Linked DNA regions of Homo sapiens: region 1 is linked to region 2. The links come from fine-mapping of genetic effects on gene expression. A gene starts in region 2. The other region holds a variant in brackets. All regions are shown on one strand. Distances are between the middles of the regions. Region 1 has its middle 23 kb from the start of FSTL1. Region 2 holds the start of FSTL1 (follistatin like 1).

What was found. PIP is the estimated chance that this variant, and not a neighbour inherited with it, causes the effect.
Region 1: its variant is the best candidate, but not a certain one, in a credible set for the expression of FSTL1 in whole blood (TOPMed, PIP 0.67).

What each region holds. Positions count from the first base shown.
Region 1 is chr3:120,471,145-120,476,521 of GRCh38, forward strand. No RefSeq gene overlaps it. Among named protein-coding and RNA genes, the nearest start is that of FSTL1, 23 kb to the left of the region's middle. The variant G/T (reference allele first, on the strand shown) is at 2,514.
Region 2 is chr3:120,448,711-120,454,087 of GRCh38, forward strand. FSTL1 (follistatin like 1) reads right to left here and starts at 2,282. Exons shown (of 11, transcript NM_007085.5): 1 at 2,187-2,282; 2 at 1,974-2,036. The coding sequence starts at 2,036. LOC124900546 (a long non-coding RNA gene) reads right to left here and starts at 1,944. Exons shown (of 2, transcript XR_007096030.1): 1 at 1-1,944.

The DNA of each region.
Region 1 (5,377 bases), 22 kb after region 2:
CGTTGTTTAGAAAGCCTTGTTCCTGGAAGCTGACAAGCTGTGAGTTGCTTAAAATGTAGTAATTTACCTGTGAATAACAAAACTAAATATAGTCATGCAATATACAGTATTTGGAAACAGAAGAGCATTGTTTAAACAAGATTTTGAATAGTTCCCTCCTTAGGAATATGGTAAATGGCCTCAGCAAAATCTGTATTTTATATTTTGAAAAGAAATAGGATTTTTTCTCAAATTTTAATGTGAATAGGAATTACCTGGGCATCTTGTTAAATGCAGCTTCTGATTCAAAAGTTCTGGGGTAGAGCAAAAGATTGGTCTGTGCATCTAAAATTTTCCCAGGTGATGTTGCTATATCTGCCCACCAACAACACTTTGAATAGCAGAGCTTCAGAGATCATAGGACAGAGCTTCTCAATCCTGACTACACATTAGAATCATCGGGAGTTCTTTTAACAAATATCAATGCCTGGTTTCCAACATCCAGAGGTTCTGATTTAATTAATCTGTGATCTGAGTCTTACACTCAGGTTACTGTCTTTTTTTAAAGTGATTCTAATATGCAGCCCAGGTGGAGAATCATTGCTCTAGTCCATTGCTCTTTAACTTTAATATGTATAGAATAGCCTGAGGATCTTGTTAAAATGCATACCCTGATTCAATAGCTCTGGGCCAGAGCCCAAGATTCTGCATTTTTAAAATGCTTTTAGGTCATACTCAGGCTGCTGGTTAACGGACCACATTTTTGAGTAGGAATGGTCTAATTCGGCATTTCTCAACCTTGACACTATTGACATTTGGGGCCAGATAATTCTTTGTTGTAGAGGGGCTGTTCTGTGCATGCGCTGGCCTCAACCCACCTAGATGCCAGTAGTAACCTCCTACTACCACCACCACATGAGATAACCAAATATGTCTCCAGACATTGTCAGATATCCCCAGGGTGAGGGGTGCAAAATCACTACTATCACCACCAACGTCACCTGCTGTGCTGGCTTGATTCATCCTTCTCATTTTACTGGAAATAGGTCCAAAAAGTCCAGTGTTACAATGTCTCCATCTTTAAAGATCTCAGAACCTCTAGGTATTTGAAAGCTGACAGATTACAAAGCTGACAGCTGCCTTAACAGGGTGTGGTAGATAGAAGAATGCACCCCCCACCCCCAGAGAGATATCTATATCCATGTTCTAATTTCCCAAACCTGTGAATGTGTTACTTTACATGGCAAAAGATGCTTTGCAGATATGACTAAGTAAAGGATCTTGAGATGGGAAAATTATTCTGGATTATCCAGATTGGCCCAAGGGTCCTCATAAGAGGGAGACAGGGTGTCTGAATAAGAGGAAGAGAAGTGACAAAGCAGAGGTCAGAGAACTAGTGATTAGAAGATGCTATGCTGTTAGTTTTGAAGATGGTGGGAGGGGCCACAAGCCGAAGAATGCAGGCAGCTTCTAGGAGCTGAAAAGGTCAGGGAATGGATCCTCCCGTAGAGCCTCCAGAAGAAATACAGCCCTGATGACACATTGGTTATAGCCCAGTGAAACCCATTTCTGTAAGAGAATAAATTTATGTGTTAAGTCAATAAGTATGTGGTAAATTGCCACTGCAGCAATAAATTTACACATAGGGGAATGTGATAAGAAGATAAACGATCTTATGTTGTGGGGAAGCAGAAGTAAGGTTGTACTTGGGTAGAATAGAATATAGGGAATGGGAAGGTGATTAAGGCAACTGAACAGACCCTGAGTTGAAAGGGAGAACTGATAATGCTGTTCAAAATTAAGAGTAATGAATGGAAAATTCCATGGGGACCAAGGCAGGACTAGTCGGAGCAGATGGGCAAGGTGGGAAGATTATGTGGGAGAGCATTGGCTGCATGTGTGGGGCCAGAGAGCATCAGTGTACTGCTTCCATGTTGCGGCCCAACATGCTTGGACAGGGCTTTGTGGTCCTTGGTGTTTGCTGCCTCTTAGAATAATCTGAGAGGAGTGTAAAACTCCTGCAGCTCAGGCTGCACCCGTACCAACAAAGTCAGAATCTCTGGGGACATAGTCATTTTTAAAACTTTGTGTGATTCTAATGTGAAGCCACATTTGAGAACCAGTGCTTAAGAAGGTAAACAGTGAGGGACAGACCAATAAATGCATGAACTCAAATTAACTTGTTTCTAGAATAACGGTTCTTTGGCACTTTTGAGGTGGCTACTTTCTTGCAGGGAGTGATGAAGGTGGGAAACCTGGTACCACCTGATGTAGCTGCAGGTGTTGGAGTGAGGATGAGCCCCAGGTTGTATGTAGTGGTGTCCAACGACAAGGCAGGGGGCCCCTCAGCAGTAGGGCAGGGGAATGGGGAAGAGAAGCTGGGAATATTGGAGGCCAGGGCTGAGAATGAGGCTACTTATCTAAATCTTGTCACCCAGAAAAATGTGAGGAATTCATACATGTGCTGGACTGAGGTCAACATCAAGGAAGAAGGGGGAAAGTCTCCAGAAAGCCATGAACCACCATATCCTTTA[G/T]CTGATTAACTTTCACTGGTAGTTCAGGGTGTATCTTAGATATGCCTCTTTCAGGAAGCCTTTTCTAACCCGCAAGCCTGAGTTAGATCCTCCCTTTTGAAGCCTTTTCAAATAGCCTGAACTCTATTCACTAGATGCCAGTAGCACTCCCCAATTTGTGACAACCAAAGATGTCTCCAGACTTTGTCAGGTGTTTCCTGGGGACAAGATCACTACCGGTTGAGAACCACTGGTCTAGAGTAATATAACGTGTGCACATCAGACACGGTCAGTTCTGTAGAGTCAAGTAAGGGTTCCTTCTTGTTGCCTCAGGACCTTATTTTTCTTTCATTCTCTTTCTCCAACTCAGACACTCACTTGGGGGTTGGAAGTTAATGATGTGGCTTCTACAGAAGCAGTGATTATGTCTATGCTGCTTTTTTTTTTTTAAAGTCATATTCTCAGTCCTGTAGAACTGGGACTCTTTCCATGGCTTATTCCATGCAGGGAAAAATGCCTCCTTCCTGAGTGGGAGCCCCTCCCTGAGGTGCACCACAGCTCCTGTAAAATCTTGAGGATGTGGGGAGTAGCTTGGACCCTTCAGAGAGGGTTGGTTTGCTTAGTGGTGGGATGGTTCTGAGGAACCATCTCATAGCTGGTACAAGTGCCAAATAAGAGACTTCTTCTGAATCTCCACACATTAACCCTTTTATTTTGTGCTTGGAAAATATGTGCTGAGCTAACCACACAACAATAGCTCCAGACAGGCCAATGAGTGATGTTTCTCAAGATAGATTTAATCAAATGCTGCACATAATTTGAAGTCTTAAAATGAATTCCTTCTGCTTTCCAGTCTATGGGAGCATGATAAATAAAGCCATGAGAGGAACTCAGAGCGGGTGAATGTATGTCATCCCATAACAATGCTGGGAGAATGTTTGGAAATCCTCCCTTCAGGGTTCAAGTTGGGATGCAGGAAAGGCTGGTTTCTCTCCCTATATCCCTTCCTGAATCTCCCAGAATATCTGCCATGCCTAGAAAAACCTTCTTTAGTTCATTGTGAACAAGAAAGGCAGCTCATCTAAGAAAACATTGCCTCTTCTGTGTTTAGGGTACTCAGCATCTCATTTTTCACTATGCCTCATGATGAAATACTCATTATAATATGAAAGGGGCCACAGTTTGAAAGTAGGAAACATGGAAGGGGCTGGTGGTCCCTAGGAAGGTGATGAAAGTGAGTAAATGTGCACTTGATCCTGTCATCACTGAACATTTATGGGGCTTCCACCATGTTCCAGACTCTGTGCTAAGTACAGGAGATGTAGGTAAAAAAGATAAAGTTTGGAATTACCAGTTGGTGGAAGGAGGCAAAAAAGTAAATAGCTGACTGCCAGCCAGAGTGAGAAGCTTAATGACAAGTAAGGGGTGCTGTGGGAACACATAGGGGTAACCTCAGTGAGATGGGGTCAGGGAGCATGTCCCAAAGGAAGTATCTTATAAGCAGATGAAAGCTATCCAGGTGAAGGACCTGGATGATGGGATGGGTGGGAATGGGAATTTCTGGCTAAGGGCAATTTAGAAGCCCAGAGGGAAGAGAGAAGCCATGAACAGGAAGCAATTTAGTCTGGCTGGAGTAGACAAGGTCAAGTGGGATGTGCATGGCGGAATCCATGTAAGGAAGGTGGCTGTTTCGTTTCATGAAGACCAGGAGCCAGCTTGAGGCCAGGTCCGGGAACACAGATATCCCCACCATTGAAGCCCACCTTAGCCTCTGCAAGAAATCCCCTGGGCTTTCTGCTGGCTCCAAATCCCGGGATCAGAAAGAAGATGCAAATCAGGATCAGTAAGAAGCTAAGAGGCCTACAGTGAGGTTTTGTGTCTTGGCAGGTGGTGGAGTTGAATTTCCTGAACTCTCTGTGTGGGCATAGATGTGTTTAGTCACACTGTGGCTTGAGGGCTGATTTGAACCTACCTCAAGCAGGTGCTCTGTGGGAATAGTTAGGTGGGGGTTGGCAGGATAACTCATTTTATTAAACAAAAAAAAAAGGCCGGGGGGTGGGGCTTCTTCCTATCAAAACAGGGGAAGGAATGAATAAATTATTGATGCTAATTAGAGATAGGCAATGACAAACCTGGAGTTTCTGCCAATCATCAGCATATAAGTGGATAGTGCCAGCCTAAAGGTGCAGACTCAGGATGCCCCACCTTGATGCCAGGTGTCACCAGCTCTTCTCCAGTGTGGCTGAGCCCATGATCTCACTAGGCCCCTGAAGAGATCCCCACTCGGCACTCTAAGGTCAGACTGGGCCACCTTCCTGAGGTGCGCCTGCTCCTGCACAGCTGGGTCTCACACAGGCCTGCTCTCCATTCCTCAGGATCCCACCTGTCATCCACTGCACAGGACTCCTAATAGAATTCCATCAAATTTCAGAGCCAGATGGAGCTTGCGGAGTGTATTATTCAAGTTCTTCATTTAACAGCTGAGGAAACACAATTTACAGCTGAAAGCATTGGTAGAAGCCATTATCTGCTATGCGGGCTGAGTCACAGAGGAAGCCAGGCAGCAGCAAGAGAGGCCATGAAGCAGAGAGATGCTCAGAAAGGAGCAGAGAAGAGCAATTGTGAAAGACGATCCCCAGGTTGCCTGGATCCATTTGCTTTTGTTTTCGTTTTTGCTTTTGTTTTTTGATACAGGGTCTCACTCTGTCACCCAGGCTGGAGTGCAGTGGTGTAATTATAGCTCAATGCAGATTTGACCTCCCAGGTTTAAGCCATCTCCTGCCTCAGCCTTCTGAGTAGCTGGGGCTACATGTGCATGCCATTACACCCAGCTAATTTTGTTTATTTTTTGTAGAGACAGGGTCTCACTATGTTGCCCAGGCTCA
Region 2 (5,377 bases):
ATGTGAGAGCACTGGATGCTCTTCTACCTCCAGCAGGAAATTGCTGCTGGGGGAACTTCCTACCAGGGATAAGTTTTCCCTGTGTGGAAGGGGGTTGGGAGGGGTGTGTGTCTTGCAGGCCGCCTAGAATAGATTCCAGACCTTGGGCCACACAGCCTGGTAAGTCAACCAACAGCCTCCTCACACCTCATATTTGCATTCCAGTTCACTGAGTGATTTCACACACTGGCTGGCAATTCTTGAGCCTGCTGGAAAACCAACCAGGGATTCACCTCATCCATCACTGGTCTGCAACTGCCTTTTGAGGGCCACAGCAGGGGATGGAGAAATGTTTCTTAACCAGGGCTACATCAGCCAGTGAAGGGGGATACGCTCTCAAATGCAAACCCTGGAAAACCAGATGGATAAGAAGCAGACCTGGAGTTCAAGATGGGCTCCAAAGGTAAGAGAGGTAGGTTCAGATCCTGCTTCAGAGCTAACTAGTTGTATGACCCTGGGCAAGTTACCTAATCTCCTTAAACCTGTTTCTTCCTCTGTAAAATCGGGATAATAAAACCTACATTACAGGGTTTGGGAGCTTTAAAAGAAGTAACTGCAGGTAACGTACACAGCCCAGTGTGTGGTAAACAAAAATGTACTTGGTAAATGTTAAACCATTGTGCTTGGAAGTGGTGTGGGTTAATGGTCAAGAGCCTTGGGTCCGGAGCCAGACTGTTTGGGTTCAAATCCCACCCTTAGCATTTAATAGCTGAGAGCATTGGGTAACCTTCGCTGACTCAATTTATCTGTCATTAAAATGGAATTTTATTACAACATAGCAGATATTTAATAAATATTAGCTACTTTTATTTCATTGGCAGTAAAAACAGTTGATTGAGTTTCCACCTCAATCAACAACGTAGTAGTGAATTAAATGAGAATTCAGTACAATGCGTATTTTTTAAAAATTGTGAAGACCTTGTATGCATTTATGACTTTTTTGGGCAGAGTCAAGCTGCGATGCTAAGGGTGTGGTTAAACTGTAATATGAAGGAAAAAATTCAAACAGGGAGCATAAACCACCCACCAGGGAGCTATTTCTTTTGTAATGTGCATTCCATTTCTTCTCCCTCATGCTTTTTAATTCCTTCCATATTTCCTGCCATAATTATCAAATGTTTAGTTTCTGACCTCACTTTCCTGGAGACTGGAGCCCGGGGAATTTAGAATTGTTTATTTTCTGTCCATAAACCTTTGAGTTAATGGAGCGGCTTCTGAGCAAAGAGTTTGTTGGTTTGTTTGTAGTGTCTCAGGAAGGTCGTTAGAGTTGAAAAAATTGGTACAAAAAAACAAGCGCTGAAATGCTTTAACTGGAAACTCGAGCCCCCAAAGAGCAGAGCAATGGATCTTCTCTTACACTTGCGCAACGTTACAGGGAACACTTGGGAAAAGGCCGTTACATTGCCCAGATGATAACACAAAACCCGAGGACACTTCACAAAGAAGAAAATACATTTCAGAGAATCATGATCTCACTTTAAAAGAGAGAAAGGAAAATTAATTTTGCCCCAAAAGAAGAATCCCGATTCCTCTGCCCCCGCCCCCAGGAGACAGACTTGGGAGGGAAAAGTCCCCAACTACTCTCAGTCTCCTCTGAAGTGAAGGACGGAACTGAGGCGCCTTTTTGAACTCGCTGCTGCTCCAGTCGCCGCCTCGTCCCCGTCGGCCCAGCCCGTCCCCTCTCCTCCTCCCCGCTCTCCCTCCATGTTAGCCGCGGCGGGGCTCCCGCTTACGGCCCGAACTACTTTTCCTGCTTTAAAGATTTAAGTTTCGTAAGCAGCATTACTGCCCCAGCTCCACCCCAGCACACCCCAAGGACCGAAACTCCCAGCGCCACCCCGGGAGAGCATCCCCAGGACGCGCGCCCACCCGCCCAGCGCGCAGACCCAAGAGGCCCCGGGGACCGAGTTCGGACTCCTCGGCCCCTCGCCTACCTCGGCGCGGACCCAGGCGACCGCCACCAGCGCGAGCGCGAGCGCGAGCCAGCGTTTCCACATCTGCGGAAGAGAGAAGAGAGCGAGTCTGAAGGCGCCGGGCCCCGCGCTGACCTGGGAAACTTGCTCGGGTCCCGCAGGCTCGCTCCGGCCGCCCAAGCACCCCCGGCCGCCCGAAGAGTCCGGCCTCCGCGCCGTGCGCCCTGCGCTCACCGTGGTCTGGTCCAGGTCTCCTGGGGGCGCGGGGCAGGACGGCGGCAGCGAGCTGTAAGCGGAGGTGGGAGCTCCGCCGATCGCCAGCCTCGGAGGAAATGCGACCTCCCCTCGCCGCCCCTTAAGACCTCTCCTTCCCCGCCTGCCTGCCCCCCCAGCTCCTCCCCATTCTCCTCCCCCTTCTGCTGCAGCGGCCCCCGCGGCTCCCGCTCCCCCTCCTTCCGACCCCTGCTCCGGGGAGCCCGCGGGAGTCCTGGCGCCGCCGAACCCCTCTCTCCGCACGGTCCCTCGTCCGGCGCCCCTTCGGCCCCCTGGACGTGGAGCGGAGGCAGAGGGGGTGTCCCGTGGGTCCCTGCCACAAAGGGGTAGGGGGAAGGGAAACCCCACCCCGGGAGGGGCTGCTGGCTGGCGGCGGCCCGGGCGGGCTGCGGCGGTGGCCAGGTGGGCGGTGCCGTGGGGGGCCCGGGAAGGTCCGGGACTGGAACCTGGAGGAAAAGACGTCCCGCGGCCTAGGAAGCGGAGCCGCCCCCCATGGCTGAAGGGGGAGGCCCAGGGAGGCAGAGGAGACCCCGCATCCCGGGGTCACGGCAGCAGGGCAGCGGGGCACCGGGAAGTGGGCGCAGGGCCGGGAAGACCGGCCGGCGTGGGGAAGGCTGCTGTGGGTTCTACAGTGCATTGTCCCGGGTGAGGTGGCGGCCGCCCTGCTCTGCTGGGAAGATCCTGAGTCCAGCGTTTGCCGGCAGCCTCATCCCCTCCTTCCCTCGGGCCGGGGAGCGGTGTCCCCCTCCTCTCTTCCGCCCACTCACTCATCACCTGTGTCCCTCCTCCCATCCCTGTCATCCCAAGTAGCCTCTGTGTTCAGGATTGCCATCTTCACCACCTTCTTCCCAGCCCTTGGCCTTCGAAAGTGTGCTACCTCTTTGACAGGGTTAACTCCCTAAAATGCTCCTAATTAAGGCGCCTTTCCTGCCATAACTAGTAAGGAGAGCAGATCCACTTAGCAACTCAGATTTCACATGCCCAAGACTAAGCCTCACTTCCCCCAGCTTCAGGGCCTGCTTATCTACCTCTTTCAGGGTGGTTGCCTTCAAACCTATCTCCTTTTCTCAGAGCCGGCTTGTACCCATAGCCTGGCAGTTTAGCCGCTGAGATCTCATATGCATCCCCTCGCCTCCGTTCACATGTCCACTTTCCTAGGCCAGACCTTCATCCTCCCTCACTCAGAAATTCTGGAAACCTCCTTTCGTTGTCCTCTGACTCCAGGCTCTCCCCTGTAGTCTCCACTGCAATCCATTGTCATATTCTTTCCCTTATTTTAAACATTGTCTTCCTCGTGTTCATGTTCTTCCTCTACTCAGAAACTTCAGCGTTCTTCTACCCACATCAAATCCAAACTCTGCCTTTCTTATAAGCCCTGCATTACTGGGCCCACCCTGTCCATCTAACTTCTCTTCAACTACATCAGCATACTTCCTCCGCTCAAAGCAGGCCCATCTCCTCGTTGTCCTCTGAACTTGTCATACTCACTCTGCTGCCAAGGTTTGTTGAGTGCCCACTGTTGTGGCTTTAGGGGGCTTCAAGATAATACCCATGGTCCCCATGTAAGTTCAGAATCCACTGAGATAGCAACAGGAGTCAGACTTATGGAGAGCAAAATGTCAGCTTTGTCTCTGCTAAAGGCTGGAATGGCAGCCATGGCTTTAGATCTGCAGGGACAGCGGGCCCAGAATTGAACATGTCCACTCAGTCACAAGCAGAGCTGGAAAACCTGCCTGTGTAAAAACTAAACTGCATGGAAAAGCAGAAAATATGTGCCTCCTGGGACATGCCTGCTCCCCAAACTTGAGGGGGTAGAGTGACACATCCCCAGTTCTTTCAAACTCTCCAGTCAGACAACTTACTCCTGCTCCCTTGTTATGGTAATAAGATTAGGGAATAGATGTTCCGCACCAGATACTCTGTCTTGGTCACTGTGCAAGGATTGAAGGGAACTATTGTGGATAAAGTTCTGCCCTCGAATAACGCACAATACATTGCATCCCTTGCAGATCCACTGCACCCTCTCAGAATCTGGTATCATCTTTCCTCCCTTCCTCTTATCTACTAAAATGCTTGGGTTTGTTTGTTTGTTTTGTTTTCAGGAACCACGTCAAGTTTGCTTCCTTCATATCTTTTCTGACAACAGCTTGGCATGGTAGAAGGCACAGGAGGTTTGAGGTCAAACCAATCTGGCTTTCCATCCTATCACTGCCATTTACTAGCTGCATGGCCTGACTTGCATCAAATAATAAGCCCTCTGAACCTAGGTTTCTGCCTCTGACAAATGGCAGTGATAATGCCTTGCAGGGAGTTGTGAAATTTAAGCAGATGCATATAAAAAGTGCCTGGCAGGTAGTAGACCTCTGTATGTGATAGCCATTATTATTTCATGATCGGCTTTGCATCTAAATTGTAGTTGGTACTATACACCAGGTACTATGAAAGCCATTCAACATCTCTTATTTTATTTAATTTTCACAATAGATAGAAAGGAGGCTGGGCACGGTGGCCCATGCCTTGTAATCCCAGCACTTTGGGAGGCCAAGGCAGGCGGATCACTTGAGGCCGGGAGTTCGAGACCAGCTTAGCCAACATGATTAAACCCCGTCTCCACTAAAAATACAAAAATTAGATGGGTATGGTGGTGGGCACCTGTGGTGCCAGCTACTTGGGAGGCTGAGGCACCAGAATTGCTTGAACCCGGGAGGCAGAAGTTGCAGTGAGCCGAGATTGTGCCACTGCACTCCTGCCTGGGCAATAGAGAGAGACTCCATCTCAAAAAAATAATAACAATAAAAAATAAAAATTTAAAAAATACAGTAAATGGAAAGGTCTTTTTTATTGCTTCCGTTTTCCAAATAAAACTGAAGCTCAGGAAGATTTAGATACTTTCCCAAGTTTATACTGTTGGCTACACAGCCTTACAACTTGGGGCATTATATTGCAGACTGCTATACAATGTTTAACACTTGTTCTCATAGTTATTCTTGATTCTCCAGCTAGTTTTAAGTTGCTTAGAGCAAAAACAATGTTTTTCATATCTTTATCCTCTCTACATTTGGAACACAATTAATGGATTTGAGTATATCAAAATGAAATGAAAGATTCCTGTTCAACTGAGGGCACCATAGACAAAATGATAGAAGGAGATA